2 separate regions of the Homo sapiens genome follow, and region 2 is linked to region 1. Evidence: fine-mapped expression QTL. A gene starts in region 1. The other region holds a variant in brackets. All regions are shown on one strand. Distances are from middle to middle. Region 1 holds the start of RNF181 (ring finger protein 181). Region 2 overlaps LOC105374843 (a long non-coding RNA gene).

Evidence for each region. PIP is the estimated chance that this variant, and not a neighbour inherited with it, causes the effect.
Region 2: its variant is fine-mapped to the expression of RNF181 in whole blood (INTERVAL, PIP 0.97).

Annotation. Positions count from the first base shown.
Region 1 is chr2:85,591,066-85,603,202 of GRCh38, forward strand. RNF181 (ring finger protein 181) reads left to right here and starts at 4,680. Exons shown (of 5, transcript NM_016494.4): 1 at 4,680-4,784; 2 at 5,454-5,584; 3 at 5,757-5,866; 4 at 6,039-6,113; 5 at 6,380-6,643. The coding sequence starts at 4,699. The coding sequence ends at 6,439. It overlaps VAMP5 (vesicle associated membrane protein 5), which reads left to right. Exons shown (of 3, transcript NM_006634.3): 2 at 660-797; 3 at 1,883-2,341. The coding sequence ends at 2,092. TMEM150A (transmembrane protein 150A) reads right to left here and starts at 11,633. Exons shown (of 8, transcript NM_001031738.3): 1 at 11,542-11,633; 2 at 10,819-10,999; 3 at 10,370-10,417; 4 at 9,956-10,042; 5 at 9,280-9,347; 6 at 8,826-8,953; 7 at 8,460-8,637; 8 at 7,482-8,252. The coding sequence starts at 10,883. The coding sequence ends at 8,011. It also overlaps a transcript of USP39 not described here. RefSeq lists enhancers at 1,627-2,128, 2,129-2,628 and silencers at 4,572-4,711, 11,103-11,162, 11,263-11,842.
Region 2 is chr2:85,963,302-85,979,575 of GRCh38, forward strand. LOC105374843 (a long non-coding RNA gene) reads right to left here. Exons shown (of 3, transcript XR_940318.3): 3 at 15,820-16,274. Among named protein-coding and RNA genes, the nearest start is that of ST3GAL5-AS1, 82 kb to the left of the region's middle. The variant A/G (reference allele first, on the strand shown) is at 8,068.

The DNA of each region.
Region 1 (12,137 bases):
AAACCGGTACCACTGAGGTTCCCAGACGGAGAGGGAAGTTGGAGCAGTGATATAGGGAGCAGGATCAGGCCAGGAGGCAGAACTGGCCTGACCAGTCAGAGGCCCAAAGAGGAAGATCTGAGCTTCTCAGTTTGGGGATAGAGGGGTTAGGCAGAGACTATGATGTGTGCTGCTTCAAAATTACCTTTCTAGCCTGTAGGGTAGGTCTCCTCCCTGTGTGTTCCAGCCAGGTAGCTTGGTTACCCATTCTTTGCTGCCTTCTTAGGCCAGTGGGAAACCTTAGGGCAGCTGTGCATTGATTGGGTAGACGCCATTCTGGAGCAGGTGAGAAAAGAATCAGCTTTGTGGGAGGGTGGGGTCCTGGGAAGATCCCACCTTGGGACAGCTTAGAGGAAGCTGAGGTGCTGGAAGCCGGGACTTACCTAGGTCCTAGGCCCTGCCTTGACGTGCAAGGGGAGGAGCCTGTGAGACTTAAGGTGTGCCGCACTCACCCCGAAGGCCAGACCTTCACTCCGCACACATCATACCCTTACACGAAGGATGCTGTTACTCTCATGCTGTACCCACCTACAGGGGGAGAAGGAGGCTTCTAGATCTCAGGGGCAGATGAGGGCCAGGTGGGGGCCTCATGCAGCCCTGACCTCGGGCTTGGTGTCCAGGCAGGAATAGAGTTGGAGCGGTGCCAGCAGCAGGCGAACGAGGTGACGGAAATTATGCGTAACAACTTCGGCAAGGTCCTGGAGCGTGGTGTGAAGCTGGCCGAACTGCAGCAGCGTTCAGACCAACTCCTGGATATGGTGTGAGGCCTGGGGGAGCATGGAGGGGAGGGGAGAGGATTGGGAAAGTCTCTCTTGGGCTGTATTCAGGATCTCCAGTTCCTTGGTGGGGTTGAGGCCTTCTTGAGGGCCAGTGTGGGGCCTCTGGGTTTCCTCAGGCACCCATAGCCTAGACATGCAACAGATAGACCCCACAAGATAAGAAGGCCTTGGTTTGAAGCTGTGGACCTTCTTAAAGGTAGAAAACTGGTATCGTTTTTTGTTTCTTTTTTACTTTGAGACAGAGTCTCACTCTGTCGCCCAGGCTAGTACAGTGGCACAATCATATTTGCTGCAGCCTCTACCTCCCAGGCTTAAGTGATCCTCCTGCCTCAGCCTCCTGAAGAGCTAGGACTACAAGCCTGCACCACCATGCCTGTCTAATTTTTGATTTTTTGTAGAGATGAGGTCTCACCATGTTGCCCAGGCTGGTCTTGAACTCCTGGATCCAAGAGATCCTCCCACCTTGGCTTTCCAATGTGCTGGGATTACAGGCATGAGCCACTGTGTCCAGCCTGAGTACTGGCATTGTTAACTGAGGGTGAGACACTAGGGCTGAAAGTCAAGGGCCACACCGGTGTTTGAGATGAGTCAGGCTGGGAGGGTTCCACGGCAGGTGGTATAGAAAGAGAGCAGACAAGGCCGGGCGCGGTGTCTCACGCCTGTAATCCCAACACTTTGGGAGGCCGAGGTGGGCAGATCACAAGGTCAGGAGTTCAAGACTATCCTAGCCAGTATGGTGAAACCCCATCTCAACTAAAAATACAAAAATTAGCCGGGCGCAGTGGTGTGCACCTGTAGTCCCAGCTACTAGGGAGGCTGAGACAGGAGAATTGCTTGAACCCGGGAGGCAGAGGTTGCAGTGAGCTGAGATTGTGCCACTGTACTCCAGCCTGGGTGACAGGGAGAGACTCCTTCTCAAAAAAAAAAAAAAAAGAAAGAAAGTAGACAAGATGGGGAGGATGCAGGAGGAGACTAAGCCTTACTGAGATGGGGTTGGGAGGAGCTGGCTCCCAGGCCAAGAGGGTGCCAGCTAACTCCCACTTTGTGTCTGGGGGTATCCGCAGAGCTCAACCTTCAACAAGACTACACAGAACCTGGCCCAGAAGAAGTGCTGGGAGAACATCCGTTACCGGATCTGCGTGGGGCTGGTGGTGGTTGGTGTCCTGCTCATCATCCTGATTGTGCTGCTGGTCGTCTTTCTCCCTCAGAGCAGTGACAGCAGTAGTGCCCCACGGACCCAGGATGCAGGCATTGCCTCAGGGCCTGGGAACTGACCCAGCTGGTCCTGAAGGAGAAGCCAAATGGCTGCACTGGCCGATTCTGGTCTCCAGAGGACCTTGGTGTTTGCTCTCCCTTGACCCACCCCAGTGAGTGCCAAAGGGCAGCCCCAACATGTGCACCCCTGCATTTCCTGTCATGCCACAGACTGGCCCTTGAGGGCAGCCTGCTGTACTGGCCATGCTGGGCCAGCCCCACCTGGAGCTCAGTAAAAACTGCTGTTTGATTAAAAGCTGGTATCTGTGTGTGAAGGTCCCCAGGTTGGTTAATCCCATCTGTCTCTACCCCTAGGGCTGCTTAAAAAGCCCATCACCCAAAGGACTCCACCCCTGGGAGATGGCTCCTTCCTCTCCCTTCCCTACTTGATCCAGCCCGACACAGACAGGGAGTGTGGATGCAAGAACACAATGGCCCCCAAAGCAGACCCTTGAACCAGTCCTCCCCATCTGAGCCTGTTTCTCTGAGAATGAAATCTATTATTTTTCTGTCATCTTGGGGATGCTTAGAGGACCAATGAGACTGTAGATGCGATGACAAAGAAGAAAGCACTTCACCAATTTTTTTTTTTTTTTTTTGAGACAGAGTTTTTGCTCTGTTGCTCAGGCTGGAGTGCAATGGCACTATCTCAGCTCACTGCAAACTCCACCTCCTGGGTTCAAGCAATTCTCCTGCCTCAGCCTCCCAAGTAGCTGGGATTACAGGTGCCCACCATCACACCTGGCTAATTTTTGTATTTTTAGTAGAGACAAGGTTTCACCATGTTGGCCAAGCTGGTCTTGAACTCTTCACCTCAGGTGATCCACCTGCCTCGGCCTTCCGAAGTGCTAGAATTGCAGGCATGAGCCACCGCGCCTGGCCCAAAAAATTTTTCATAAGGCTCTCACCTTCAGATAAATGGTTTCCCCTCTGAACACTTCCCACTCCTCAATTTCTCTTTCCACATTCTATCTACCTCAAGCTTTACATCAGACTGCAGATGGGGGAAGTGACAGCAAGAGATGGGGACCTTAAAGCACTCCTTGGTATTCCCATCTCCCTCCCTCCCTTCCTTCCTTTTTCGACGGGGTCTCTCCTGTGTCTTCTCTCCCTCCCTCTTTCGACGGGGTCTATGTTGCCGAGGCTGGTCTCGAACTCCTGGGCTCAAGCAATTCTCTTGCCTTTAGTGCTGGGATTGCAGGCGTGAGCCACCATGTCCAGCCTGAATTCAGGCTTTTCAAAGCTACAGGGCCATATAGGCCAGGGAGGCAGTGCCTTCAGGGCCATAGCAAAGATCATTGGGCAAAGGCATGGAAGAAGGAAATAAAGCCACACCAAGACTGTGGAAACAGGGCAGCCTCTGCCTGGGCTACTTAGCTGCAGTTCAAACTCAGGTGTGAGTGGCAAGGGGAATTCAGGGTCAAGTGTGTAAAATAAGCAGTTCCTTGCTGGGTAAAGTGAGCGCTACTGACAGAAACCAGAATAAGCCTGAGTTGTGTGGAGCTTCACCCCTTACAGAGCGTGTTAGTTTTACTGAGCGCATTAGCGTCTTCCTCTCTTGGGAAAGATGGAGGAAAGCACTTGGCCCTGCAGCTGGTCTGCAACACCACTTACAGACTGCAAATTTGGGCAAGCCACTTCTGAGGTAAAAAGGGCATAATGACGCTTAGCTCCTGGGTCTATTGAGGGGATGATCGAGCGTGTAAAACATACATCAGACTAACAGTTCTAGATGCTAAATAGTACCTATCATCCAAATCATTGAGTGCAGTGGTTCTTAAACCTGCTTCACCTGCATAATTTATACAAGTGCCATTGCCCAGGCCCCACCACAGATCAGTTAAATCAGAATCTTCGAAGGTATCAGACACGGGTGTTTCTAAAGCTCCTCCGCGCCCATTCTCTCCTCTGGGAATTCATGTGTAGCCAGGAATGAAAAGGTCTTAGTACAAGCCAGCAGTTTTACAGAAGCTAGGGATAGCAACGGGCTGAAGGTAACAGTCCCATGAGCTGGTTGAGGCCCCAGGTTCTCCGGCAAAGAGATCTCTCTCAGTTGGGGAGGCTTGCCCCACCCTTTATTATTATGCCTAACACATAAGAAATGCGCAGGAATCAAACGCAAACTGGTGAACCAACTAGAGGGCCGCGGGGGCAGAAGTGTCCGGCGGGGATCCGGACAGCGCATCCGGAAGCGCCATGGGCCAACGCTCGCAGGAACCTGAACCCCTGGGCCAGCGCCGCCTTTGCTCGCAGAGGCCTCTAGCATCTGTACTGTCGAAGCCCTCTGAGCTTCAGGGCAGACTGAAGAGCCTTACACACCAGACACTTGGACGCGATCGCGCCAGAAATCCCCGGGAATTCAGTCTTGGCTCCGACTCCAAAACAAATGATTCCTCACCAGCCAGATCTCCATCATTGGCGTTAGTCTCTGGTCACCTGACTTGTTCAAGCCAATGAGAGGGGGCCGAATTAGTACTTCCGCTTTCCGTGCTGTTTAACGAGCCACTATGCCCGTCCCTCGGATACTCTGATTGGCCAGCCTCTCTCAGCTCGTCAGTTTATTGGCCAGCGCCGCTAGGCCGCTATCGAGCAGGGTCCGAGGGCTGTGTCAGAAGGCTGGGCAGCCATGGCGTCCTATTTCGATGAACACGACTGCGAGCCGTCGGACCCTGAGCAGGAGACGCGAACCAACATGCTGCTGGAGCTCGCAAGGTGGGTGCGCGGGGCTTGGGGATAGGGTCCAACCAGCAGGTTTCTGGGCTGGGGCTGGCTGGAGAAGGCGGATTACCAGGGGCAGCGGATTCTGGGGAGGACAGATGAGTAATCTGGAGTGTTAGTACGGGCGGCGAGACTGAGGGGTGTGGGGATGAGCATCTCGATAATTTGGGCCGTCCGTTGGGCCGGCCTGGGGCAAGGGGATTGCGGGAAAGATTGGAGCTGGAGAGTGGTGGGCGTGGGGGCGGAAGGACAGCAGGCTCTGGGAGGTCTCAGAGAAGGTGAGGCATGGGGGCGGGGTTGGGGCCGTGTGCTGTGAGTGGGTATATTCATCAGTAACAGCAGGCACTGCTGTTACTGGACCTGGAATCTGGCTTGGTCTTGGAATCTGGGCTCTACCAGGTTATTCAGCGTAGCCTGAGTAACTTCTCTGAATCTGTTGCCTCATGTGTAAAATGGGAATAAACACTTTACGTGCTGGGGCGGTCTGATAGCAGTTGTAAACTATTTCCCATCGTGCTTTTTATCTAGTGAGCATCTACTAACTACTAAGGGTAGCTATTATTCCTACTAGCTGGGCAGCGTGTTTATTAATGTCCAGTGGATTATGGGGACAAAGAAAAAGCATAGTTTTCCTTTGTTCTGACTTTACATCCCCTTCCCCAGGTCACTTTTCAATAGGATGGACTTTGAAGACTTGGGGTTGGTAGTAGATTGGGACCACCACCTGCCTCCACCAGCTGCCAAGACTGTGGTTGAGAACCTCCCCAGGACAGTCATCAGAGGCTCTCAGGCTGGTGAGGACACTGATTCTTTCTGCTATTTGGGCCAGACCCACCCCTTCCCCAAGCCAGACTGTGGTCTGGTCCTTCAGTTTTCCAGGTCAGGTGGGGGCAAGTGTCCTTCAGGAGTGGGAGCTTGGGAGGCAGAGCCTGTAGCAGCTCTCCTGATCAGCACTCCTTCCTAAAGAGCTCAAGTGCCCCGTGTGTCTTTTGGAATTTGAGGAGGAGGAGACTGCCATTGAGATGCCTTGCCATCACCTTTTCCATTCCAGCTGCATTCTGCCCTGGCTAAGCAAGGTACTGCTTCTCTTCTTCTAGCTCTCACCGTGCCCTGGGCCCAGTACTCAAGCTTCTTTCTGTTCATGGACTGCTGGGGGATGGAAGAAGAGTGGCAGTTGGGAGCAGGGGAGGGTGGTTATCAGCTTATGAAGATCAGACCAAGGCTAGAACACTACTCTACTTTTCTCAGACAAATTCCTGTCCCTTGTGCCGCTATGAGCTGCCCACTGATGACGACACTTATGAGGAGCACAGACGAGATAAGGTAGGGGCTGATGCTTAAGTGGAGGGGTCGTAATGGGCTCCCTGAGTCCTGTCCCCGCTGCCATCACTTCCCACCTCAGCAGGACTGGGTAGGCCTCAGAATCCCTGGCTCTGGCTGTCTTCTTAGTGACTTTGATTTGTGGTGAGAGCCTCAGCAATGCAGACGCCAGAGGCCTGAAAACAGAGCCAGCCCCATAATAGCTGCCCATCCCCTCACCCATAGGCCTTCAGTTTTGGCCCCTGCCCAGCATGCCTTCTTTCCTTCAGGCTCGAAAACAGCAGCAGCAACACCGACTGGAGAACCTCCATGGAGCCATGTACACGTGAGGAGGTTGGGGCTGAGTGCTGGCCCTCTGCGTCTTCCTTATTAACCTTGAATCCTCATTAAAGGTTTCTTTACCCACCCTGAGGCTGTATTGATCACAGACCTGGCCAGGGGCTCTGCATCCTCCATCAGGTCTCTACTTCTGTTGGGGAAGGTGATCCTAAATCGCAGAAGGCACCAGGCTGCGGTTTTCCTCCCTGCTGGCCCATCTGGACTCATGGCAGTGGTAAAGAACTGGATTACTGCAATAGCCAGGGCTTGGGCCTATGTGTTCATGGTTGGAAGGCAAAATGTGTCAGGGTCTGGTACCCAGTTAATTACTTAAAGCTGATAAACTAGGCTGGGTGCAGTGGCTCATGTCTGTAATGCCAGCAGTTTGGGAGGCCAAGACAGGTGGATCACGAGGTCAGGAGTTCGAGACCTTCCTGACCAACATGGTGAAACCCCGTTTCTACTAAAAATACAAACATTAGCTGGGCATGGTGGCACGCACCTGTAATCCCAGCTACTTGGGAGGCTGAGGCAGGAGAATTGCTTGAACCTGGGAGGCAGAAGTTGCAGTGAGCTGAGATCATGCCATTGCACTCTAGCCTGGGCAACAAGAGCAAAACTCCGTCTCAAAAAAAAAAAAAAAAAAAGCTGATAAACTAGCCTGCACCCTCCTCCCACTGCAATGTCTAGTTAACTTTGTAATCCCACAGGTTTTCTTTTTGCTCCATTGAGAAAGCCACTTTTAATATTTTAAAGTTGCTCTCTGTACCACCCCCACCTTCCCCCCATGCCTCCTAAGGAATCAAAGTTCAAACCAGACTCTGAGTGGGGGATGGGTGAGATTATCAGACCAAGTTAGTTCTTTAGATTGCTTAGAGGCCCAGAAGGGTTTCAAGCCCTTTGAAGGGGTATTTGGGTGGCACCTGGCATCCTTTGTTTCTGGCAACAGAGTGCACTCAGCACTCCTGGGGGGCAAGGGCTTCCTCCCATCCTTGGCTTATGGAAAGCCATCCCAGATCAGGCCCCCCAACTCTCCAGAACAGGCTACAAACATGCAAATTAGAATTCTTTTAATATAAAAAAAAGTACTAAAATACCCACGTGGTTCTGCTGTGTTATTTGCCCTAAAGGAAGTGAGGGGCAGAGTGAAGAATCCCAGTGCAGCTCAGTGGGCCCAGAAATGGGCCTTTCCGTAGGCTAAGGCGTGCCCACTCCACCTCCACCAGACTTCTATCCCCTCTGCTGTTCCCAGCCCCCAATTCCTGCAGCAGGAAACCCCAGTGGTCTGGCTTTGGCACTGGGAGTAGAAGGCACCTGAAGGGCTGGCTGGGTGAGTGAGGACAGGTGACCTTTAAAAACAAAACGACACCGTGGGGTGGGGAAGCAGGTCATGCAGCTGTGGCAGCTGGCAGGGCCCACTCCTCCATGGCACAGGTGGGCATGGGATGGCCACTTCTCCAGAAGTGAGGAAGCCCAGATCCCAACAGAATACTTTCTCAAAATTGTTTTTGGTACGAAATAAATGGAAAGAAGATATGGGGTGGGGTGCTGTGGAGGCCGGGCCAGCCACCCTCCCCAGACCTTAGATCATAGCGATGCTCTCGGGGGCACAGTTGAGGTGGGTGGAGGTGCTGCTGCTCCCGGAGGACTTGCAGGCCCGGCCAGGGGTAGGCTGCAGTGCAGCCACCAGTGTGTCTGAGGAGACTGCCCCAAACTCGTAGCTGAAGGTGCCATAGAAAATGAGGATATCGATGACACACACCCACTCACACAGGGCTGCCCCATGTTGCAGCTGAGAACTCTCATGGACAAAGAAGACTCCACCTAAAACGAGGCTAAGGAAATGTTCAGTAGGACATACGGAAACCTGGCAACACCCCTTCTGCAGTCTCAGGCCTCACCTCTCCAAAGGGAGAGGTGTTAGTCCTCTCCCCCACATGGCAGTGTTAGGCCTCCACCCCCCATCCTCTTGGGAGGGAGAAAGGTTGAGCTAGAGGATGAGTTCCTGGCTGCCCCGTCCTGAAAGGATACTGAGGACCAGGGTGATAAAGGCGATGACAGCCAGCACACTTCGCAGATAGGCCACAGCCAGGTCCAGCGGGGCGGTGGCCCCTTGGTAGGAGAGAGCACAGTGCAGGCAAACAAAGAGCAGCCCCGCAGGGAAGGCCACGCCAGCTCCAACGTAGTGCAGAGACCTGGCATGATCCACCTGGGCCCAGAGAAGGGCCAGTTGGTGATGTGGCCATGGCCCCACCTCTCCACCCCTCCTTCAATGAATCTCCTCTCTCCCTCTTCCTTCCTCTCCCTCTTTCCAGCCCCAACCTTGAGGTGCCACACTGCAGGCAGCCAGGCCTTGTTAGGTAAAGTTTAAGGTTTGCAGGGGAGAAGGGGAAGCACCTGAAAGTTGCCAACCACCAAGAGGCCCGCAGCGTTGGTGCAGCCTGTGATGAGTGCCGTGGTGTTAACCCAAGAGTGCCGACTCTGCTCCAGGAGCTGCCCGTAGCGCAGGAGGCAGATCAGGGCCACTGGGGGAGGAGAGCACAGTTGAGGCCTTCCTCCAGCCCTGGCCCTGCCCAGCGAGCCTGTCAGCTTCCCCCAGACGCTGTGGTGCTCCTGCCCCTTCTGAGGGGCAGAAAGGAACAGACAGGCGGGTGGTGAACTAGGTTTCCTCAGGCTCCAGCCAGCAGGGTGGCTGTGTGGGAGTCAGCTTTTGGCCTTCAAGGAAGGGGAGAAGCTGCCTCTATTGCCTTAGCCCTTGGTGGGGAGGGCTGCACAGAAGGGCTTCCTGGGCCTTTCTGTGTGGGGATCACTGGGCTGGGCACGCAGGGTCAGGGCTAAGGGTACAACTCACCCATGAAAGCACCCATGTTGCCAATGAGGCTGAAGAGGCAGCTTTCTGGGGGATAGGAGCCACACTTGCTGCGAGGAGGGGGAAGGACAGAGTAAGAGGGGTGCAGGAGGCCCGGGGGGCCCCCATTTTGGCTCACTGGCTCTCCCCTGCTTTACCTGCACCTGCTCCTTAGCAGGCAGGCCACTGATTTATGTGAAGATCCAGGGTCCCTCATGAACAACTGGTTCCAGGCTGGGCCCCCAAAGCAGAGCTCATGTGTGTGAGAGAGAAGGGAGTGCCCAGGAGTGTTCGGGCAACCCTGACACTCTTTGCTGAGCCCTGCGGCTGGTTTGGCTATCCTTGAGCCAGAACACGGGCTGGGCAATCTGAGGGCTCCAGCTTAAATCCAGGTGCCTCCGCTTATTAGCTGTGTGACCTGGATGAGGAAGACTGAGCCTGTTTCCTCACCTATAAAATGGTGAAAACAATACCTGCCTCACTCCTGGGAGGATGAAAAGAGACAATGCATATAAAGCACTCAGCAGAGTGCCTGCCCCACAGTAACTGTCAAGTAGTGTTGTTATTAAGTGGCTCTTAGGATACTTATTGTTCCTGAGACCCAAGGACAGCTCTTTGCTTGAGGGGCTGTCTGGGAGGCCCTTAGATCTCCCTGACCGGCCCAATGTCCAGGCCTTACCTGATGAGGGGGACATCGTCCAGGGTGCAGCAGGTCTTGGGACCCCCTTGCTCAGCAGGGTCAGGAGGGCAGGACTCGTTGTAGGACCTGGCAGGCAGGACAGGGAGTAGACTGGGGGAAGGGACTGCCCCCAGGCCCTTGGCCTATAGCCTCAGGCCTCAAAGAGGACTCTCTCCCAGACCTCCCCTACAGGGACAGAAGATCCCACTCCCCAGTGCCCGCCTGAAGCAGTAACCAAAGGGGCAAAGGGATAGTGGGAAGTGGGTAGGTGGCAAGAAGCCATGCCTGGGGACCAATTTCAGAGAAGAGCAGTGAGGCTCAGGGTTGCAGTCTGGCTCGTGGCAGCCTCAGGCCCAAGAGGGGACAGAGATGAAGGAAGCTTTAGAGCAAGGTTGTCTGCAGAGTCCTTCATACCAGTTCTCCACAGGGCATACATGGTGGTTCATCACAGCCATGGCATACCTGTGGGAACAGAACTGTCACCCTGGCAGCCTTCCCGAGCCCCACTCAACCCACCCCATGACCCTTCTCTTCAACCTTGATTTCTGGCCCCATTCAGCCTCATTATTGTTGCTGGGGACTCAAGTTGAGGTCCCTAAGGCTTGATGCCACACCAGCACCTGCAGCATGCCCCCAGCTACAGGCCCTCTGGAAATTGCCCTGGCTAGAAGTATATTTGTCAGGGCCACCCTGCTGGACAGCAGTGGTGCCAGCTTGTCCCAAGGGGCTGTGTGCCCAGGCACCAAGTCAGGCTTTTGAGACACCCAGAGTGACCCTGGGTACCACCGTGGCTATGACAGGACAAGAGACTTTGTGTGCGTCATCAAGCTCCTGTTGCCCCCCGGGCACCCCCCTTTACTCACACAGTCCATATGCCAGTGATGGAGAACGCTGACAGGCTGACAGGCAGGAGGATCCAGGCGGTCATGAGGGAGGGGAGCCAGGGTGGTGGTGGTGTTGGGGGGAGGACAAGAGGTAGATGGGGAAGTGGGGGCGGACCAGCTACCTTGAGATGTTTCTGCCACAACCATCAGCTGTCCTGGCCTGGTGGAGAGAGATCAAAGTCCAGGAGTGGGTAACTGGCCGGGAAGGGGGAGGGGAAGGGGGTCAACACCTTATCCAGCGCTCCCGTTGGGTCTCTGAGCGTCCAAAGTTTGGGCTGAGCCCACGGCAGAACGTGAACACCCTCTGGCACTGGGGGCCTCCGCGGTCAACCCAAATGCCACCGGCGTGCTGAGAGACGCAGGCGGACCGTAACATCTGGAAGGGAGTTACCCTCCTTCTGAGGGACCAGGGCTGGGAGAAGGGCTGGACAACCGAAGAGGCCACGCCAAGGAGAGGCTGGGTGCCGGCCCAGTGGAGCGGTGGCGAGTCGGCGGCGCGCAGGCAACCACCTGACCATCGGCGCCCTGGGCGAGGGGCGGGTTCACGCGGAAAGCCCAGCCCGGCCCGGCCCCCGCTCGCCTGGGCGCGGGGACCCCGGCTGGGGCCGGACCCTGCGGCCGGCGACCCCCCAGGACCCGGGACGCGAGAGTCCCCAGGTGATTCCTGGAAGCCCGGAGGAAGGGAAGGAGCCCAGTACGCACCTCCCCGGAGCGCCCCGCCGCCGCCGCACCCTGCTCGGCCCCCTCGTGGCGCCGACTCTAGCTGCGGCCCTCGGAGCAGCCCTGAAAGGTTTAAAGGGCCGAGCGGCCCCGCCCCTGGAGGCCCCAGGCCTCGCCGCGCCGCCCGCCGGGACGTGGAGTCCGCGCAGCCCCGGCCTCGGTGCCCGCGCCCTGCCCGAGACTACAACTCCCGAGCCCCCGCGCCCGCGTCACGGGGGAAACGTGGGCGGTGTCCCAACTTCGGAGGACCTGGGCGCGGAGGGCTGTGGCGTGAAGACCGCTCTAAAACCGAGATGACTAGAGGTTCCGTTTAACCGATTCCTGCCGGGGAAGCGTCAGCAGGTGGGGATCTCGGGGCAGCCTGCATTCCAGCTCTACCTGGGATTGTCGCCGTGCACATGGCTGGAGGAGCGTCTCTCCGCCACTGCGCACATTTTGCAGCCTGCACCGGCCAACGGTGAGTCCTCTAGGAAGCTCTCTCAACGTGGCGCCCCATGCCTGCCTCTGGCCAGGGCTGCGGTGGGTCCAGAGAAGCAGACACAAAGACTTGGCTGTTTCTTAAGAAATCCAAGCGCCTG
Region 2 (16,274 bases), 370 kb after region 1:
ATTTGTTTATTTATTTATTTTGAGATGGAGTCCTGCTCTGTCACACCCAGGCTGGAGTGCAGTGGCATGATCTCGGCTCACTGCAGCCTCTGCCTCCAGGGTTCAAGTGATTCTCCTGCCTCAGTCTCCCAAGTAGCTGGAGTTACAGGCAACTGCCACCACGCCCAACTAATTTTTTGTATTTTTAGTAGAGATGGGGTTTCACCATGTTGGTCAGGCTGGTCTTGAACTCCCGACCTCAGGTGATCCATCCACCTCGGCCTCCCAAATTGCTAGGATTACAGGCGTGAGCCACTGTACCCGCCTCTAATTTGATTTATAATTTTATTGCATGGCTTCTAGAACTCTGGGGCTTCTTGTTGGCCTGGCAAATACTTGGTCAGATATGTATCCTGGTCTGACAGCTTCTCTTACCTAATCCTGAGCCCACCTTTTCTCTTTTGCAGGTGTGACAAACTGTTTGCATTCCTAACTTCAAGTCAACAGTTGCCTCTCGAGGAGCCAAGATGGCCAAATAGGAACAGCTCCAGTCTACAGCTCCCAGCGTGAGCGACGCAGAAGATGGGTGATTTCTGCATTTTCAACTGAGGTACTGGGTTCATCTCACTGGGGAGTGCCGGGCAGTGGGTGCAGGACAGTGGATGCAGCACACTGTGCGTGAGCTGAAGCAGGGTGAGTCATCGCCTCACCCAGGAAGTGCAAGGGGTCAGGGAATTCCCTTTCCTAGTTAAAGAAACGGGTGACAGACAGCACCTGGAAAATTGGGTCACTCCCACCCTAATACTGCACTCTTCCAATGGGCTTAACAAACGGCACACCAGGAGATTATATCCAGCACCTGGCTCGGAGGGTCTTATGCCCACGGAGCCTCGCTCATTGCTAGCACAGCAGTCTGAGATCAAACTGCAATGTGGCAGCGAGGCTGGGGGAGGGGCGCCCACCATTGCCAAGGCTTGAGTTGGTAAACAAAGCGGCCGGGAAGCTCAAACTGGGTGGAGCCCACCACAGCTCAAGGAGGCCTGCCTGTCTGCCTCTGTAGGCTCCACCTCTGGGGGCAGGGCACAGACAAACAAAAGACAGCAATAACCTTTGCAGACTTAAATGTCCCTGTCTGACAGCTTTGAAGAGAGTAGTGGTTCTCCCAGCACGCAGCTTGAGATCTGAGAACAGGCAGACTGCCTCCTCAAGTTGGTCCCTGACCCCTGAGTAGCCTAAATGGGAGGCATCCCCCAGTAGGGGCGGACTGACACCTTACACCTTCGGGTACTCCTCTGAGACAAAACTTCCAGAGGAACAATCAGGCAGTAGCATTTGTGATACACTAATATCTGCTGTTCTGCAGCCACTGCTGCTGATACTCAGGCAAACAGGGTCTGGAGTGGACTTCGAGTAAACTCCAACAGACCTGCAGCTGAGGGTCCTGACTGTCAGAAGGAAAACTAACAAACAGAAAGGACATCCACACCAAAAACCCATCTGTACGTCACCATCATCAAAGACCAAAGGTAGATAAAACCACAAAGATGGGGAAAAAACAGAGCAGAAAAACTGGGAACTCTAAAAATCAGAGCACCTCTCCTCCTCCAAAGGAATGCAGCTCCTCACCAACGATGGAACAAAGCTGGATGGAGAATGACTTTTGACGAGTTGAGAGAAGAAGGCTTCAGAAGATCAAACTACTCCGAGCTAAAGGAGGAAGTTTGAACCAATGGCAAAGAAGTTAAAAACTTTGAAAAAAAATTAGACCAATGGATAAGTAGAATAACCAATGCAGAGAAGTCCTTAAAGGACCTGATGGAGCTGAAAACCACGGCAGGAGAACTACGTGACGACTGCACAAGCCTCAGTAGCCAATGCGATCAACTGGAAGAAAGGGTATCAGTGATGGAAGACGAAATGAATGAAATGAAGCGTGAAGAGAAGTTTAGAGAAAAAAGAATAAAAAGAAACGAACGAAGCCTCCAAGAAATATGGGACTATGTGAAAAGACCAAATCTACGTCTAATTGGTGTACCTGAAAGTGATGGGGAGAATGCAACCAAGCTGGAAAACCCTCTGCAGGATATTATCCAGGAGAACTTCCCCAATCTAGCAAGGCAAGCCAACATTCAAATTCAGGAAATACAGAGAACGCCACAAAGATACTCCTCGAGAAGAGCAACTCCAAGACACACGATTGTCAGATTCACCAAAGTTGAAATGAAGGAAAAAATGTTAAGGGCAGCCAGAGAGAAAGGTCGGGTTACCCACAAAGGGAAGCCCATCAGACTAACAGCTGATCTCTCGGCAGAAACTCTACAAGCCAGAAGAGAGTGGGGGCCAATATTCAACATTCTTAAAGTAAAGAATTTTCAACCCAGAATTTCACATCCAGCCAAACTAAGCTTCATAAGTGAAGGAGAAATAAAATACTTTACAGACAAGCAAATGCTGAGAGATTTTTTCACCACCAGGCCTGCCCTAAAAGAGCTCCTGAAGGAAGCACTAAACATGGAAAGGAACAACCGGTACCAGCCACTGCAAAAACATGCCAAATTGTAAAGACCATCAAGGCTAGGAAGAAACTGCACCAACTAATGAGCAAAATAACCAGCTAACATCATCATGACAGGATCAAATTCACACATAACAATGCTAACCTTAAATGTAAATGGGCTAAATGCTCCAATTAAAAGGCACAGACTGGCAAATTGGATCAAGAGTCAAGACCCATCAGTATGCTGTATTCAGGAAACCCATCTCACATGCAGAGACACACATAGGCTCAAAATAAAGGGATGGAGGAAGATCTACCAAGCAAATGGAAAACAAAAAAGGCAGGGTTGCAATCCTAGCCTCGGATAAAACAGACTTTAAACCAGCAAAGATCAAAAGAGACAAAGAAGGCCATTACATAATGGTAAAGGGATCAATTCAACAAGAAGAACTCACTATCCTAAATACATATGCACCCAATACAGGAGCACCCAGATTCATAAAGCAAGTCCTTAGTGACCTACAAAGAGATTTAGACTCCCACACAATAATAATGGGAGACTTTAACACCCCACTGTCAACATTAGACAGATCAACAAGACAGAAAGTTAACAAGGATATCCAGGAATTGAACTCAGCTCTGCACGAAGTGGACCTAATAGACATCTACAGAACTCTCCACCCCAAATCAACAGAATATACATTCTTTTCAGCACCACACCACACCTATTCCAAAATTGAACACATAGGTGGAAGTAAAGCACTCCTCAGCAAATGTAAAAGAACAGAAGTTATAACAAACTGTCTCTCAGACCACAGTGCAATCAAACTAGAACTCAGGACTAAGAAACTCACTCAAAACTGCTCAACTACATGGAAACTGAACAACCTGCTCCTGAATGACTACTGGGTACATAAAGGAATGAAGGCAGAAATAAAGATGTTCTTTGAAACCAATGAGAACAAAGACACAACATACCAGAATCTCTGGGACACATTCAAAGCAGTGTGTAGAGGGAAATTTATAGCACTAAATGCCCACAAGAGAAAGCAGGAAAGATCTAAAATTGACACCCTAACATCACAATTCAAAGAACTAGAAAAGCAAGAGCAAACACATTCAAAAGCTAGCAGAAGGCAAGAAATAACTAAGATCAGAGCAGAACTGAAGGAAATAGAGACAGAAAAAACCCTTCAAAAAATCAATGAATCCATGAGCTGGTTTTTTGAAAAGATCAACAAAACTGATAGACCGCTGGCAAGACTAGTAAAGAAGAAAAGAAAGAAGAATCAAATAGACGCAATAAAAAAATGACAAAGGGGATATCACCACCAATCCCACAGAAATACAAACTACCATCAGAGAATACTATAAACACCTCTATGCAAATAAACTAGAAAATCTAGAAGAAATGGATAAATTCCTCAACACATACACCCTCCCAAGACTAAACCAGGAAGAAGTTGAATCTCTTAATAGACCAATAACAGGCTCTGAAATTGAGGCAATAATTAATAGCTTACCAACCAAAAAAAGTCCAGGACCAGATGGATTCACAGCCGAATTCTACCAGAGGTACAAGGAGGAGCCGGTACCATTCCTTCTGAAACGATTCCAATCAATAGAAAAAGAGGGAATCCTCCCTAACTCATTTTATGAGGCCAGCATCATCCTGATACCAAAGCCTGGCAGAGACACAACAAAAAAAGAGAATTTTAGACCAATATCCTTGATGAACATTGATGCAAAAATCCTCAATAAAATACTGGCAAACCGAATCCAGTAACACATCAGAAAGCTTATCCACCATGATCAAGTGGGCTTCATCCCTGGGATGCAAGGCTGGTTCAACATTCAAAAATCAATAAACTTAATCCAGCATATAAACAGAACCAAAGACAAAAACCACATGATTATCTCAATAGATGCAGAAAAGGCCTTTGATAAAATTCAACAACCCTTCATGCTAAAAACTCTCAATAAATTAGGTATTGATGGGACGTATCTCAAAATAATAAGAGCTATCTATGACAAACCCACAGCCAGTATCATACTGAATGGGCAAAAACTGGAAGCATTCCCTTTGAAAACTGGCACAAGACAGGGATGCCCTCTCTCACCACTCCTATTCAACATAGTGTTGGAAGTTCTGGCCAGGGCAATCAGGCAGGAGAAGGAAATAAAGAGCATTCAGTTAGGAAAAGAGGAAGTCAAATTGTCCCTGTTTGCAGATGACATGATTGTATATCTAGAAAACCCCACTGTCTCAGCCCAAAATCTCCTTAAGCTGATGAGCAACTTCAGCAAAGTCTCAGGATACAAAATCAATGTGCAAAAATCACAAGCATTCTTATACACCAATAACAGACAAACAGAGAGCCAAATCATGAGTGGACTCCCATTCACAATCACTTCAAAGAGAATAACATACCTAGGAATCCAACTTACAAGGGATGTGAAGGACCTCTTCAAGGAGAACTACAAACCACTGCTCAAGGAAATAAAAGAGGATACAAACAAATGGAAGAACATTCCATGCTCATGGGTAGGAAGAATCAATATCGTGAAAATGGCCATACTGCCCAAGGTAATTTATAGATTCAACACCATCCCCATCAAGCTACCAATGACTTTCCTCACAGAATTGGAAAAAACTACTTTAAAGTTCATATGGAACCAAAAAAGAGCCCACATTGCCAAGTCAATCTTAAGCCAAAAGAACAAAGCTGGAGGCATCATGCTACCTGACTTCAAACTATACTACAAGGCTACAGTAACCAAAACAGCATGGTACTGGTACCAAAACAGAGATATAGACCAATGGAACAGAACAGAGCCCTCAGAAATAATGCCGCATATCTATAACTATCTGATCTTTGACAAACCTGACAAAAACAAGCAATGGGGAAAGGATTCCCTATTTAATAAATGGTGCTGGGAAAACTGGCTAGCCATATGTAGAAAGCTGAAACTGGATCCCTTCCTTACACCTTATACAAAAATTAATTCAAGATGGATTAAAGACTTACATGTTAGACCTAAAACCATAAAAACCCTAGAAGAAAACCTAGGCAATACCATTCAGGACATAGGCATGGGCAAGGACTTCATGTCGAAAACACCAAAAGCAATGGCAACAAAAGCCAAAATTGACAAATGGGATCTCATTAAACTAAAGAGCTTCTGCACAGCAAAAGAAACCACCATCAGAGTGAACAGGCAACCTACAGAATGGGAGAAAATTTTTGCAACCTACTCATCTGACAAAGGGCTAATATCCAGAATCTACAATGAACTCAAACAAATTTACAAGAAAAAAACAAACAACCCCATCAAAAAGTGGGCAAAGGATATGAACAGACACTTCTCAGAAGAAGACATTTATGCAGCCAAAAAACACATGAAAAAATGCTCATCATCACTGGCCATCAGAGAAATGCAAATCAAAACCACAATGAGATACCATCTCACACCAGTTAGAATGGTGATCATTAAAAAGTCAGGAAACAATAGGTGCTGGAGAGGATGTGGAGAAATAGGAACACTTTTACACTGTTGGTGGGACTGTAAACTAGTTCAACCATTGTGGAAGTCGGTGTGGCAATTCCTCAGGGATCTAGAACTAGAAATACCATTTGACCCAGCCATCCCATTACTGGGTATATACCCAGAGGATTATAAACCATGCTGCTATAAAGACACATGCACACGTATGTTTATTGCGGCACTATTCACAATAGCAAAGACTTGGAACCAACCCAAATGTCCAACAATGATAGACGGGATTAAGAAAATGTGGCACATATACACCATGGAATACTATGCAGCCATAAAAAAGGATGAGTTCATGTCCTTTGTAGGGACATGGATGAAGCTGGAAACCATCATTCTCAGCAAACTATCGCAAGGACAGAAAACCAAACACCGCATGTTCTCACTCATAGGTGGGAATTAAACAATTAGAACACATGGACAGAGGAAGGGGAACATCACACACCGGGGACGGTTGTGGGGTGGGGGGAGGGGGGAGGGAGAGCATTAGGAGATATACCTAATGCTAAATGACTAGTTAATGCATGCAGCACACCAACATGGCATATGTATACATATGTAACAAACCTGCACGTTGTGCACATGTACCCTAAAACTTAAAGTATATTAAAAAAAAAAAAAGACAAAAAAAAAAAAAACCAGTTGCCTCTTGTGGCACCCAACTGGCACATATGCTATGCTTTCCAGTTTGGTATTTAGCTTTGTAGATTTCTGATTATTTCCTATACTCTGGAAGAATTCATATATCATAGAAAGTATTAGACCCTTGAAAATTAGATGTAATTCACAAATAAAACCATCTGAGTCTGTTTGGGTGTTTTTTTAGAAAAAGAACTTTGACAGTTGTTCTAATTTCTTATGTGTTTATTGACCTATATAGGTTTTCTGTCTCTTCTTGTGTTCATTTTGGTAATTTTGAGAGTTGAACCCAATCTCTCTTCCCTGCTGCAAAATCTCATTGCATAGTCCCTACAAAAAAAAAAATTGGTAATTTACACTTTCTTAGAAAATTTTGTATTTCAATCTAGGTTTTCAATTTTTTAAATTAACAATTTCTTTTTGATCATCTTTGGAAATATTTAAAAAATATCCATAGTTGTATTTTCTTGCCCATTTCAAACATTAATTATCTTTTAAATTTAAATATATTTTAAAATGAATTTTAACTAGATTTGTAAATAGTAATGGTCTTTTCAAAGATCAAGATTTTGTTTTATTAACTAAGTTCATATTTTCTGTGAGTGTTCTACCTCATTAAATTCTGCTGATTTTTATACTCCATCCCTCTACTTTCTTTGAGTTTATTTTGCTGCCTTTTCATTCTAGACTATTGATTTCATGCTCTTTCATTTAGTGTTAGCCCTACTTGTTTCTAATAAACTTATCCTGAGTCCCACTTGGGCCATGTCCCACAAGCCCCTAAAACAGGGTTTCTGATGGTCACTTCTTTCTAGTTTACGGTTTCCTCTTTAACTTAAGAGTAATGTTAACTTAAGAGTAATGTTAGAGCAGGAGTTCCTAACCCACAGGCCGCAGACGGGAGCAGTCTGTGGCCTGTTAGGAACTGGGCCACACAGCAGGAGGCAAGCAGCCTGAGAATGAGCATTACCACCTGAGCTCCACCTACTGTCAAATCAGCAGCAGCATTAGATTCTCATAGGAGTGCGAACCCTATTGTGAACTGCACATGCGAGGGATCCAGGTTGTATGCTCCTTATGAGAATCTAATGCCTGATGATCTGAGGTAGAACAGTTTCATCCTGAAACCAGCCCTCTCACTGCATATATGGAAAAATTGTCTTCCTTGAAACTGGTCCCTGGTGCCAAAAATGTTGGGGACTGCTGCATTAGAGGTTGCTTTAGAACTTCCAGTTGGGGGAAAATACATACATACATACATACATATATATATATATATATATATATATATATATATATATGTATATGTTTGTTATCTTGTATGTTTCATTTGGCTTTTTAATTTTTTTTTCTTTTTTTGAGACCAGGTCATGAGACTGGCTAATTTTTGTATTTTTGGT[A/G]GAGATGGGGTTTTTCCATGTTGCTCAGGCTGGTCTTGAACTCCTGGCTTTGAGTTATCCACCCACCTCAGCCTCCCAAAGTGCTGGGATTACAGGCATGAGCTACCATGCCTGGCTGCTGCTTTTTAATTTTTAATTTTATTGTGCAGTGGCCAGACAAGAAGGTTTGTATAACTTATGCTTTTTGAAATGTATTGGAATTCTCCTTGTGGTCAAATACATGACTCATTTTGTAAAAGGACTGTAGATGCTTGAAAGAATGGGTACTTTCTATTTATCCAGTATAATATTCTATTGATATATATATACATTCAATAGATTTCAGAATTCTATTCTGAGGTACACTGAAGCATATGATTAGTATATCTTTTTGGTGGACTACAACTTTTATCAATATGAACTCTCCCTGTTGGCCTTGATGCTTTTTATTTCAAATTGTTGTTTTTGGTGTTAATATTGATACGTCTGTTTTTCTAGCAATTTACCTAGTGTTCGCTGTTTATTATGTAATAAACAACAATTTACCTGTCCTTGAAGCAATTACATAATATTTGATACGCATTTAGGTAGCATATATAGTTCTATACCTTTGTTTTCAAATATCCTGTATAATTTCATTTTAGATATAACTTTTGGCAACAGCAGTGGCTCATTTTTTAAATTTTCTTTACCTAAACTGAAACTCTGTGTCTTGTAATAGGCTAATTTAACCTATTCATGAGTACTGTTATTACATATGCGATTAGATTTATTCCTGTCATGTTATTTTCTGTCTTCTATTTATCATACTTTCTTATTTTCTTTTACTTTTTAATCTTTTCTTCAGGTGATCGTTGTTATTCCATTGTTTTTCCTTTTACGGATTGGCAGTTATATATCCTATTTCTATTCCTCTTGTGGTTATAATTAAATTTTGATGACATGTACTTGAACATAGTTTTCTAAAATGTTTTGAAGTAATCTAGACTATTAACAAACTACAGCCTATGGGCCAAGTTGAAACCAACCAAATAGTCCCATAGACTGTTCTTTTGGATAAACATAGAAATTGACTTTTCTGATCTTAAAGCTTGAAGTTTACATTTGCTTTATCTGAGTTCCTTCCTCAGGAAAAGACCTTCAGGCCTCTCAAGAAAGTAGCAAAGAACTGAAACTCCCCAGATCACCACATTCAGACAATGACATGCCTGACCCCTCATTCATCATGATTGCTTCCTTGCCCCTCCCTGGTTCCTGTTTCTTTACACATCATTACATTTCTTCCCTGCTCTATAAACCCCAGGTTTTAGTTTGTCAGAGAGACGGATTTGAGACTGAGCTCCCACCTCCTTGGCACCCAATTAAAGCCTTCTTCCTTGGCAGTGCTTGTTGTCTCAGTGACTGGCTTTCTGTGCTGTGAGCAGCAGGACCTAGACTGAACCCCTGGTATTTTGGTAACAAAATCCCACCTATTCCACATTTTTGCACAGCCTAGAAGCTAAGAATTTTTTTTTGTATTTGTATTTATTTATTATTGAGACAGGGTCTCACTCTGTCACCCAGGCTAGAGTGCAATGGCACAATCAAGGCTTACGGTAGCCTTGACCTCTGATGCTCAAGAGATCCTCCCACCTCAGCCCCCTGAGTAGCTGGGACTATAGGTACACACCACCATGCCCAGTTAATTTTTGTTTTTGGTTTTTGTTTATTTTTAGGGGGTAGAGACAGTGTTTTGCTATGTTACCCAGGCTGGTCTTGAACTCCTGAGCTCAAGTGATCCTCCCACTTTGTTCTTCCAAAGTGCTGGAATTCCAGGCATGAACCATTGCACTCGGCCTTTATATTTTTAAGTGGTTAAAAAAAATCAAAAGACAAATAACATTTTATGACACATGAAACGTATATAGCATTCAGATTTCAGTGTCCATAAGCAAGGTTTCATTGGAACACAGCCACACTTACTTGTTTCTATATTGTCTTTAGATATATATATAGTTGTTTATATATGTAGCTGCTTTTGTGCTATCATGGGAGAGTTGAGTGGTTGAGACAAAGACTGTATGGCCCACGAAGGCTAAGATATTTGTAATCTGGCCCTTTACTGAATAAGTTTGCTGATCCTTGGTCTAGATGTCTATCCCCACTCCCCATACAAGAGTTACTACAGAGATTAATTCTTTCCAGCCAAGACTCACTCCATATCATTTCTATATTGTATTCGTTTGGGATTTGAGTTCCAGAAACAGAAAATAATCCAAATGTTCATCAACAGGTGAATGGATAAGCAAATTATGTACATCAAGCACAATGGAATGCTACTTTTCAGTAAGAAAAGAATGAACTATTGATACATACAACAACATGAGTAAGTCTGAAAAGCATATGGCTGACTGAAAGAAGCTAAATGTGGAAGGTTACATACTATATTGTAACATTAATGTGACATTCTAGAGAAGGCGAAATTACAGTGACAGAGAGCAGATCAGCGGTTTCCAGGGGCGAGGTGTGAGGGAGAGGTGATTGGCTGCAGAAGAGCATGAGGGAAAGTTTTGGGGTGATGGAAATATGTTATGTCATGGCTCTGGTGGTGGTTGCACAACTGTATCACAACTTTGTTAAAACTCATCCAGAAAAACAAAATTGGTGAATTTCATTGTATGTAAACTATAACTCGATAAAACTAAATTTAAAAACCTGTCCTGGGTAAAACAAATCTTTAATGAAGAACGGGAAGAATCTATGACAGGAAGGGGCTTGAGAGAACACTCTGAGGTGATGGCAATTCTTTGTGTCTTCATGGGGGTTTGCATTGTGCAGGTTTGATGCATTTGACAAAATTCAGCTAACACATATGCAAGATTGGTGCATTTCATTGTATATAAATTTTACATCAAAGAGAATATATCAAATATTGAATTCTAGTTAGTGATCTGTATACTTGAATATTTAGGGGGAAATGTACTGAAGTCACAATTTACTTTGAAATCCATCAAAAATAAGATGGATTAGTGAATGGCTAGATCAATAGATATGTGATAAAGCAAGTAAAGTGTTAGTGGTAAATGTCATGCTAATGGTGGGTGTTCTCTATTAAATTAAAATAAAATCTTTGTTCTGCCTTGTAAGAAGGTTGTGTTGACATTGAATGGTTGTATGCACTCAGCCTGGCAGCTGGATCCAGTCTCTTTAACTATGTCATCTATGAAGAAATAGTGTTGAAACATTTTTGTACAGAGTACATACCTTACTGTGCTCATATTCCCTTCTTTAAATGTCAAGGAAAAGACATGACAGGACCCACCCCACGTACTTGCCTAGTTTGAGCCAGCAGCTCACCTGGACCTTCCTGCTTTCTGACTTGCAGCTGTCTTTGTTGATGATCTATAGAGGCCCCTCCTCTTTAAGCCTGAGGGGTACAAGAGTCTAAGTGGTTCCCTGGGACCTGGTTTACTGACTGCTGGAACCCTGGAGATGGCATGCTGGCAATGAGAGAATCTTACGGAACTCAACTTGGTACCAATGCCCTAGTGAAAAAGTAGTGGAGTCCTTATATATCAGCATTGGAAGGGCACTTAGACACCATTTTACAGATGAGGAAACTGAGGTCCAGATAGGGAAAATGGCTTGCCCTAGTCCACATAGCTTCATGACAGCAGGTTCTACACCCCAGCTCTCCCCACTCTCAGCCCTATTTGGGCTGCAGCCAACCTGACGGTTTTTTGAGGGCACTGGTGGGAGGATCCCTGGGGTTTGTGAGGTGGTAACAGCCACAGTGTGAGTGAGATCTGGATCCCACCTCTGGCCCTGTGACCTTGGACAAGTTATTTAATCTCTAATACTGGGTTTCTTCAGGAGTAATATGAGAAGAACAATATCTTTTTTGTCAGGGTATTGTGAGGTTTCACTGGAACATCATCTGTGGAGCCATTTATGCAATGCCTAGACCTGGTGGGTGCTCACTCTGTGGGCACCACTGTCATTGGTGTGCTCATGAGCGCACTGACCTGAGATTCTGAGAAACCAGATGTTGGCTCTGGTGCTACCCTCACCAGCTGTGACTCTACTCCTCACAAGAATCTTCAAGGTCGTAGTTTTATCCGGGTTTTACAAATAAGGAAACTGATATGCGTGTCCAACCTCAAATCTTCAAATCTGGATCAAACGCAAATATTGTTTCTAGTCATTCTCTTGGCAGGAATGGTCTCAGCACAATCACCAGTAGGCAAAGTTTATTTTAGTGCTTCCTTCTTCTCTTTCCAATCTTCTGTCCTTCTCTCCCCACCAAGTGAGTGGGAGGAAGAGAAAGTTGGGGACCGTTTGATGTTCCTGGGTGTTAGTAACACTCGAGGGAGCCACACTTCCCAGGGGCCCTCAGGGCAATCTAGAAAGTTCACCACTCTTCCAGCACTGGCAGACAAATCCAGCCAGTGCCTAGAAAAGGTTCATTTGTGACATCCACAAGGCAGGGGCACTCCACACACACTTCGCTGACCATTCGCATCTGCATCATTTGGGAGCTTGTCAAAACTGACAATTCTGCCTCTGCCCCACCCAGACCCACTGAATCAGAGTCTCTGGGGATGGGGCCCAAGAATATGAGTTTTAGGAAGCTCTGTAGGGGATGCTTAGGCACAGTAAAGTTTGAAAAGTACTATTCCAAGGGACCAGTAAGAGGACATAGGAGTGGACCAGTCTCTGTAATTTTGCCATTTTCCAAAAAGAGACCTCTAATCTGTGCTGAAGTTCATTTCCAAGGACTGAGTAGGGCTGAACAGGGTAAATCTCATTTTAAAATAAGTGTTCCCTCATTCCTCTCACAGCCCTCTTCCAACATGTTGTTTTCACCTTCAACAGAATGCCTAAGTGAAAAGGAGGGATGCAGTGTGTTTGGCAGCGTGGAAAAGATCAGAGGGGTGTGAAACGAATTCATATCTGGCATGACCGAGCTCTGTTGGGAGGACCTTGGCAGGGCTTGAAGCAGCCTCAGAAGAGAGGTGGACCCCAGCCAGTGCTTAAAACAAGAAGCCTGTCAGCTGCTGCCATTTTCCTGTGTTATAGGAAGACCACAGACCCAAGTCAGACAGGCCCGGTGTCTAATCCCTGGGACCTTGGATGGTGACTGGGCTCTCTCTGCCAAGGGGATTATGTGTGTTCGAGCACCTGGCACCTAGGAAGCATTCAGCATAGGCTGAAGTAGCCCCTCCTTTGACCCTTGTTGGGAAGGGAAGGCAGTGCCAGACCCATGCCAAGCAGCCTTTCTGGTAGCTGGTCTTTTGGTCACACAGGGAACCCCCAGAAGCCTCGCTTCAAGCCCTCTCCATAGAAAACCCACACAGCCAGGGTTTGCTGTGGCTCTTCTGCCCTGTTGAATGTGTCTCCGTGACCATGTACCCATCTGGAAGACTAAGTGTGTGGCCACCTTCACTAGCAAAGATCACCCTCGCTCCGCCAGGTTCTCTCCTTCCCACTCTCTCTGCACCTCTGCCCTTTGGTCCTTTTCAAGCACTAGCCTCTGTGCCCAGTCTTTGGTGTGGATGTTGGGGCCTTTTTAGCCATTTCTGTCTGCATGACTGGTTAGTGGGCAGGGGGAGTGACGAGTGGGCTGGCAGAAAGTTCCTTTGGATTTCATTAGCCCTCGTGGTGATCAGCATTGAGGTAATGCATCTGCAACATCACGTGTTCAACCTATGAAGAGTAAACTTCCCGCTGGCGTTTCTACTATACCTTGTTATTCAAAAATGGTATATGTCTAGGCCAGGTGCAGTGGCTCACACCTGTAATCCCAGCACTTTGGGAGGCCGAGGTTGGTGGATCACCAGAGGTCAGGAGTTTGAGACAAGCCTCACCAACATGGTGAAATCCTATCTCTACAAAAAAAATTCTGTAAAACTACAAAAATTAGCCGGGCATGGTGGCCAGGCACCAGTAGTCCCAGCTACTTGGGAGGCTGAGGCAGGAGAATTGCCTGAACCTGGGAGGCGGAGGTTGCCGTGAGCCGAGATCATGCCACTGCTCTCTAGCCTGAGCGACAGAGTGAGACTCCGTCTCAAAACCAAAACAAAAACAAAATGGTATCTATCTCCTCCCTAGCCTTGAGTTGCATTGTGAGAGCCTCAGTAGTTCCCACACTCCAGGAAAGGGGGTACAGAAGAGGGAACACCTGCCTCTCCATCATGTTGTTATTGATTGATTAATGTTTCACCTTGGGCATCCTCAAAGCTACCTGAAGAATCTCACTCTGGGTGTTTCTTCTTTTCCTTTTACTTGTACTGATAGGGACCCAGGTTCTCAAATAAGGATTCTATTACGAACACAAGAGCTAAGGGAATGGTGCATGAGGATCCATCCACAACCATCGCCATGTGTCCCATGGCTGAGGCACAGGGCTTGGGGGTAACCTGACCCCACAGGAGGCTATAGAATTAGCCATGCATGTATTCAACAACAACTACCCTAGTGTGCTTTGATCTAAAAACTCATCATGTGTTATCAAAATGCATAGTGGTACAACCCTCAAAGCCAATTCCAGGCCAGATGAGGGCTTTCAGGAGGGAGATAGAGTTAGAGGTGTAAAAGATTAGAGAAGTTTCTACCAACATCGAAGACCCACTCCTCACCCGCTGCTGTCCTCACCTCTGTTTTATTTGCATCTTTCTTTTTTCTTTCTTTCTTTTTCTTTTCTTTTTTTTCCGAGATGGAGTCTCACTCTGTCACCCAGGCTGGAGTGCAGTGGCATGATCTTGGCTCACCGCAACCTCCGCCTCCTAGGTTCAAGTGATTCTCCTGCCTCAGCCTCCCGAGTAGCTGGGATTACATGCGCACACCACCATGGCTGGCTAATTTTTGTATTTGTAGTAGAGACGGGGTTTCACCATGTTGGTCAGGCTGGTCTCAACCTCCTGACCTCGTGATCCGCCTATCTCGGCCTCCCAAAGTGCTGGGATTACAGGCGTGAGCCACCGTGCCCGGCCGCATCTTTCTATTTCAGCTCCTACCTCTCATCACTCCCCATTCAGATGACCCCCAAACTCCATCACCAGAGGCAGAAACTACAGAGTTCTACATGCAGCTGGAAATGCCTCCTGGAGTTTTTGCATCTGGCAGTGACTATCTCACCTCTTAACCAAACTTAATCACTGGCAGGGAGAACCTCACTTCAAATCTGGCCCCCTGCCCAGCTGGGTTCAGTGCCAGGGTGTGGCTGGCACAAGATTAAATTCTGTAATGTATTAGCAGCAGAGTTGCATTTAATAAAAGCCAAGAGCTTCTGAATACACATGTTGGAAGAAAAAAGAAGCAAGATGGAGCTTAGTAGCCAAGCAAAAGCCAGGCATGGGGGCATGAGGTGGGTGATGTTTCTCTTAGGACCAGGGGTCCAAGGATCTAAGGGTCATGGAGAAATCTTTGTTAGGGCTAGAAGACAATAGCAATCAGTTAATTCATTCCAGAAACATTCATTGGCACTGTTCTAGACACTATGACTGAAAAGATGGCACCAGAGATGACTGAATATGAGCCAAGGGTTTTTTGTTTGTTTATTTTTCTGAAAATTATCCCTCAGAAAAGACTAATTCCATGTAGTCTTATATTAGAAACCTTAGTCTCCTCTCTCCCTCCCTCACTTCCTCCCTCTATTCTTCCCTTCCTTTCTTCTTTCCTCCCTTCCTTCCTTCCCCTATTTCCTCTTCCTTCCTTTTTTCCTTCCTTCCCCTCTTTCCTCTTCCTTCTTTCCTTCCTTCTCTTTCTCATTCTTTCCTCTTTCTCTTTTCCTCTCTTTTATTTTCTTTTTTCTCTTTCTGCATTTCTCTTTCACCTTTCCTCCCTCCACTTTTTTTAATTCATCTTTTTAAGTAATGACAGCTGTCTGAGATGCCGTCACCTGAAATGACCTCAGTCAATGCTAGTTTGTATGTTTATAAAGGTCACCTGATGACAGTGGTGAAAAAATCGGCAAAGAAATTTGAACACAGATTTAGTAAGTCTCCCTAGGGATATGACCTCACAATGAAAAGAGTTGCATGTTTTTGTAAATAAGGCTTTTTAAAATCATTTTAAAATGCAACTTGAAGATTATAAATATATATCTCCTGGGTAAATGGGAGGAAAACTGTCCAAATGTTATTTGAATGGGTAATTGTGGTTTGGGTTATAATTCCCAATGTCAGCATCAGATGCAGGTTCAGAAAGTGGTGCCTCTCAAACAAGTTAGGAGGAAGTGAAATTATGTA